Regions from separate parts of the Homo sapiens genome. Here region 2 is linked to region 1. Evidence: fine-mapped expression QTL. A gene starts in region 1. The other region holds a variant in brackets. All regions are shown on one strand. Distances are between the middles of the regions. Region 1 holds the start of GAS1 (growth arrest specific 1). Region 2 overlaps LOC105376126 (a long non-coding RNA gene).

Evidence for each region.
Region 2: its variant is fine-mapped to the expression of GAS1 in whole blood (INTERVAL, PIP above 0.99).

Annotation. Positions count from the first base shown.
Region 1 is chr9:86,945,901-86,948,707 of GRCh38, reverse strand. GAS1 (growth arrest specific 1) reads left to right here and starts at 1,202. Exons shown (of 1, transcript NM_002048.3): 1 at 1,202-2,807. The coding sequence starts at 1,929. GAS1RR (GAS1 adjacent regulatory RNA) reads right to left here and starts at 10. Exons shown (of 7, transcript NR_049794.1): 1 at 1-10. RefSeq lists silencers at 1,992-2,071, 2,142-2,211.
Region 2 is chr9:87,272,009-87,274,815 of GRCh38, reverse strand. All of the region lies in intron 7 of LOC105376126 (a long non-coding RNA gene), which reads left to right. Among named protein-coding and RNA genes, the nearest start is that of LINC02872, 120 kb to the right of the region's middle. The variant T/G (reference allele first, on the strand shown) is at 1,717.

The sequences.
Region 1 (2,807 bases):
GAGTTGATAGTCTCTCCACGGAAAGGGGAGGAAAAAAGCGCCAGTTTTTGACAGGCCGCAGACGCCCGCTGCCTCTGGTGGCGGAAGGCTGCGTTGCGCCCCAGTTAAGGTAGCTCGGAAACTCCCTCGCCGAGAAGGCAGAGGTTTCCTCTGCAGAGCAGCCTCCCTTAAATATACTGAGGGGCTGAAACTTACACTTTAATATAAACCTTTGGTGCGTGCCCATTTATTCCGTCTTCTGTCCTGTGACTGCGGCCAGGTGGTAATTGCTCGACATTCCTGAATATTTTTAATGCTAGTTAAATTTTTTCATTATTGCACGTGTTGCAAGCTTATCTTCCTAAGAAATTATTTCGGTTGATTGGATTTCGGTCTTGCAATTTGAAAACGATGCCTGGCGCACGGGCGGTACCTGCCAGATGGCCTAGCTGGGGCTGGGGGGTGGCGGGCGGGTTGTAAGCATCTCATCAACATCTCCCTAATAAAGTGTGTGCTTCTTTCTTGTATGCTTCTTTAAAACAGTTTCAGTCTCACATTTTATCTCTGGATTCTCCCCTTCCCCTCTGTGGTGATCAAGACCCAAAGACAGGGAGCCTGGAAGATAAACTGAGTTCTGAATCCAGTCGAAAGCACAGATGGGGGCCAGCGAGAATTAATAAAACTACAAAAAAAAAAAAAAAGAAAAAAAAAACAAACAAAAAAGGCCCGTGGCTGAGCCGGATGCAAACAGCTGCCCCTAAGCCCTGCCCGCTGGTTCTGTGCGCGAGCTGGGGCTGCATATCCGAGCCTCCTTAAGAGTAGGAGGAGCTCCGGGCCTCCGTCAGGCTCCCTAAGCCGTTCCTTTCAAGCCCTGAATGCCTGAATGTGAGCTGCCCACCACCCTCCCGCCCTCCCCCACTCCGCAACCCCACTCCAGCGGCTCGTAAAAAAAAAAAAAAAAACTTTCAACAACAACAGGCAGGACCAATAGCATCTCGAAAAGCCGGGAAAGGGGGCCGAGCAAAGGGCGAAAGAGAGTGGAGAAAGGAGAAAGCGGGCAGGCTCGGAGCGCGCGGGGCCGGGGCTCGGCGAGCCGGAGGAGCGTTGCTAATGTTTTTGTTTGTTTGCTTTTCCATGCATGCATAATGAGGGGGCACCGCGGCACCACGCGGGGGCTCCCGGCCCACTTTTGTATTTAAAGCCTCGCTGCTAACGAGTCTGCAGCCGGGCTCAGCGGATCCGCTCCCCGGGCTCTTGGTCACCCGAGAAGCTGCCGCCGAGTGAAGCCAGGGAGCCGCTCTCCGGCAGCGCCGACTTTCTTGTTCTCCCCGCGCTTCCCGGAAAGAGCTCCCCGGAGCTCTGCGGAGGCCGGGGTTGCCGCGGGCGGAGGGGGAGGGGACGCGGGGCGGCCGGGCCGCGGGAAGGCGGGCAGCGCGCGGACGCCGGGCCAGGAAGCGGCGCGATGCGAGAGACCGCGGCGGCGGTGGCGGCGGCGAGGCACTGAGCCCAGGAGGAAGGAGCCGCCGCGGCCGCAGCGCGAGCAGCCGGCACGGGGACAGCCGGCCGCACAACGGATCTGCAGGCGCGGAGCAAAATGCACCCGCCGCGCCGCGCGGTCCTGCAGCCCCGCCACGGCCCCGCGGCCCGCACCCCCCCGGGGCGACAGTGAGCCTCTCCCGCCACCACCGGGGGCCGAGCGGAGGGCTCTCGGGTGGGAGAGCGGGACCAGATCTCGACAGCTGTTCATTTCCAGGAAGCCACCGCAGCCAGAGCGAAAGGGGACCTTCTGCCACCAGCGGGGCATCAGCCAGCGGCGCGCATGGATTTATGAAGACACTCATGCAAGAAGTGGGCAGGACTTGGACAAACTTTTCCACCGGCTCCGCGTCCGCCGCTCCCCGCGCCTCGTCTCCTTTCCCCTCCTCTCCCGGCGGCCGCCGCTGCCCGCGATGGTGGCCGCGCTGCTGGGCGGCGGCGGCGAGGCCCGCGGGGGGACAGTGCCGGGCGCCTGGCTGTGCCTGATGGCGCTGCTGCAGCTGCTGGGCTCGGCGCCGCGGGGATCGGGGCTGGCGCACGGCCGCCGCCTCATCTGCTGGCAGGCGCTGCTGCAGTGCCAGGGGGAGCCGGAGTGCAGCTACGCCTACAACCAGTACGCCGAGGCGTGCGCGCCGGTGCTGGCGCAGCACGGCGGGGGCGACGCGCCCGGGGCCGCCGCCGCCGCTTTCCCGGCCTCGGCCGCCTCTTTCTCGTCGCGCTGGCGCTGCCCGAGTCACTGCATCTCGGCCCTCATTCAGCTCAACCACACGCGCCGCGGGCCCGCCCTGGAGGACTGTGACTGCGCGCAGGACGAGAACTGCAAGTCCACCAAGCGCGCCATTGAGCCGTGCCTGCCCCGGACGAGCGGCGGCGGCGCGGGCGGCCCCGGCGCGGGCGGGGTCATGGGCTGCACCGAGGCCCGGCGGCGCTGCGACCGCGACAGCCGCTGCAACCTGGCGCTGAGCCGCTACCTGACCTACTGCGGCAAAGTCTTCAACGGGCTGCGCTGCACGGACGAATGCCGCACCGTCATTGAGGACATGCTGGCTATGCCCAAGGCGGCGCTGCTCAACGACTGCGTGTGCGACGGCCTCGAGCGGCCCATCTGCGAGTCGGTCAAGGAGAACATGGCCCGCCTGTGCTTCGGCGCCGAGCTGGGCAACGGCCCCGGCAGCAGCGGCTCGGACGGGGGCCTGGACGACTACTACGATGAGGACTACGATGACGAGCAGCGCACCGGGGGCGCGGGTGGTGAGCAGCCGCTGGACGACGACGACGGCGTCCCGCACCCA
Region 2 (2,807 bases), 330 kb before region 1:
ACACATGCTTTTGTAAAGACAGAGTTTTCTAATGCCTGGGGTCTTAGATCTATACGGCAGGAGAAGGGCTAAATAGAAAGTGTGATTTGGGTGTGCTATTTGAGCTGGAGCTAAATTTGAGTAAAAGCTTTGTCTGTGAGTTTACAAACATACAATTAAGGCTCTCACAGTTATCTAAATCCATTTTCTTGCCTTATAATTTTATGGTTAGAAGCATTACAGTTGTTTTTAGATTTTCATTATAACTGCAGTAGCCACAGACGGAACCAAATAGTGTTTGTTTATTTGTGTGACAAATTATGCCCCTCAGCTAACTATACTGTGTAATTTGCATTGGGTGTGTGTTTTGTGAAAGAAGTATACATTGGTCTGAGGGTCTTTTCTTCTCTTTCCTCTATCTTCTTCCCAAAGCAGTGCTGATAATAGAAAATTGGAAAATAAAAGGCACATTTGTGTACTACACACACGCTTGACTTCAGATTCCACTCCCCACCATTGTAGCTGGGTAAACTTGGGAAAGTCAGCTTATTTCCTCAATTTTTTTTTCACACAGTGAACTTTGTTCTTTTAAAATACCTTATTTACAGATCATCAGTAGGGGAAGAGTAATTTAAAGTATTAGGAACTTCAGGCCAGGAGCAGTGGCTCATCCCAGCACATTGGGAGGCCGAGGGGGGTGGATCACCTGAGGTCAGGAGTTTGAGACCAGCCTGGCAAAACCCCATCTCTACTAAAAATACAAAAAAATTAGCCGGGCGTGGTGGCGCATGCCTGTGGTCCCAGCTACTAGGGATGCTTAGGCAAGAGAATTGCTTGAACCCGGGCAGTGGGCGTTGCACTCCAGCCTGGGTGACAGAGCGAGACTCCATCTCAATTAAAAAACAAACAAACAAACAAACAAATAAATAAATAAAGTATTAGGAACTTCAGTGTCACTTGAAGGTTGATTAGAAATGAAAATCATTTCTGATGACTTAGGTACTTCCCAGCTATGAAAACTCCTGTAGTTAGTCAACTCTGCCTCTCTGCTTTTTCTTTAATTTGTTATTTTTTTTATTGTGGAAGAATACATATAACATAAAATTGGCCCTCCTAACCATTTTTAAGTGTAGAATCCAGTGGTATTAAACACATTCATCAAGTTGTGCATCCATTACCTCCATCCATCTTCAGGACACTTTTCATCGTGTAAAACAGAAACTCCACACTCATGAAATAGTAACTCCCCATTTGTCCCTGCTTCAAGCCCCTAGCGACCGCCATTCTCCTTTCTGCCTCTCTGATTTTAACTCTTCTAGGTACCAGGTATAAATGGAAGCATACTGGATTTGCTTTCTGTGACTGGTTCTTTTCATTTAGGTTCATCTATGCTATAAGCTGTGTCAGAATTTCCTTCCTTTTAAGACTGGTTAATACAATATTCCATTGTGGTATATCTACACTGCATTTTGCTTATCTATTCATCTGTCAGTGCACGCTTGGATTGCTTCCATGTTTCGGCTATTGCGAAGAATGCTGCCATGAACGTGGGTGTACAGATATCTCTTTGAGGCCCTGCTTTCTATTCTTTTGGGGATATACCCAGAAGTAGCACTTCCATATCATATGGCAACTCAATTTTTAACCGTATGAGAAACCACCGTACTGTTTTCCACAATGGTTGTACCATTTCTTTTTTGTTTGTTTTTAACTTTTATTTTAGGTTTTGGGGTACAT[T/G]GAAAGGTTTGTTACATAGGTAAACTCATATAATGAGGGTCTGATATACAGATTATTTCATCACCGAAGAATTAAGCCCAGTACCCAATAGTTATCTTTCCTGCTCCTCTCCCTCCTCCCACCCTCCACCTTCAAGGAGGGTCATTGGACATTGCACTCCAGCCCTGGAAACAGAGCGAGACTCTGTCTCAGTTTAAAATAAATAAATAAACAATGTATTAGGAACTTCAGTGTCACTTGAAGGTTGATTAGAAATGAAAATAATCTCCGATGACTTAGGTACTTCCTAGCGATGAAAACTTCCGTAATTAGTCAACTAATTGACTAATTACAGGGTCTGTTGTTTCCTTCTTTGCATTCATAAGTTCTCATCATTTTGCTCCCACTGATTTGCATTTGAGTTCAAACAAGATAATTTCTGAACTCCTATTGCAAATTGCTAAATGCTGTCTAAATATCTACTAGAGATGATTAGAATGATGGTTAATAAGTGCTATATTTCACATCAGGTTAAAATTTCTTCCAAGATATCTTTCTTTTATCTGCATGTATAGAATTTAGATCTTAGCATGAATGGGGATGAATTTATATCCATCTGTCATCTGAGATACTCTATGTGAACAAGGACCACTGTTGATCTGGCTGACCATATAAAATATCAGATAACAAAACCTTGAAAACTCATATTGGGAGTGTATGCTTTTGTCTAGTGCTTCTGGTCCTTTTAAGCAGCCAACAAATTTGCATTGAGACCTTGCTGACTGTGGGTATCGGTGATTTTTGTCCATTGACGATTTTATCTTTAGTTGCTACTTCTTTGGTTTCAAAGAACTACATGTGACAAAAAGTGGCAATGTCTTAGGAAGTGGTTAAGCTGAGTTTATAAAAAAGGAATTGAAAATATGTAAACATTTAAGCAATTTGAATTGATTAGGAACTTGGATGGGGGTAGTGCTTCAGTTTAATATAACTCAAGAGTTCTAGATAAATCATAATTCTTTAGATGAAGGCTAGTTTGTTCTGGATTCCTGCTGAGATAAAATGATCATAAATTTACAAGTAAAGAATAATGTAAATACCTTAATGTCAAA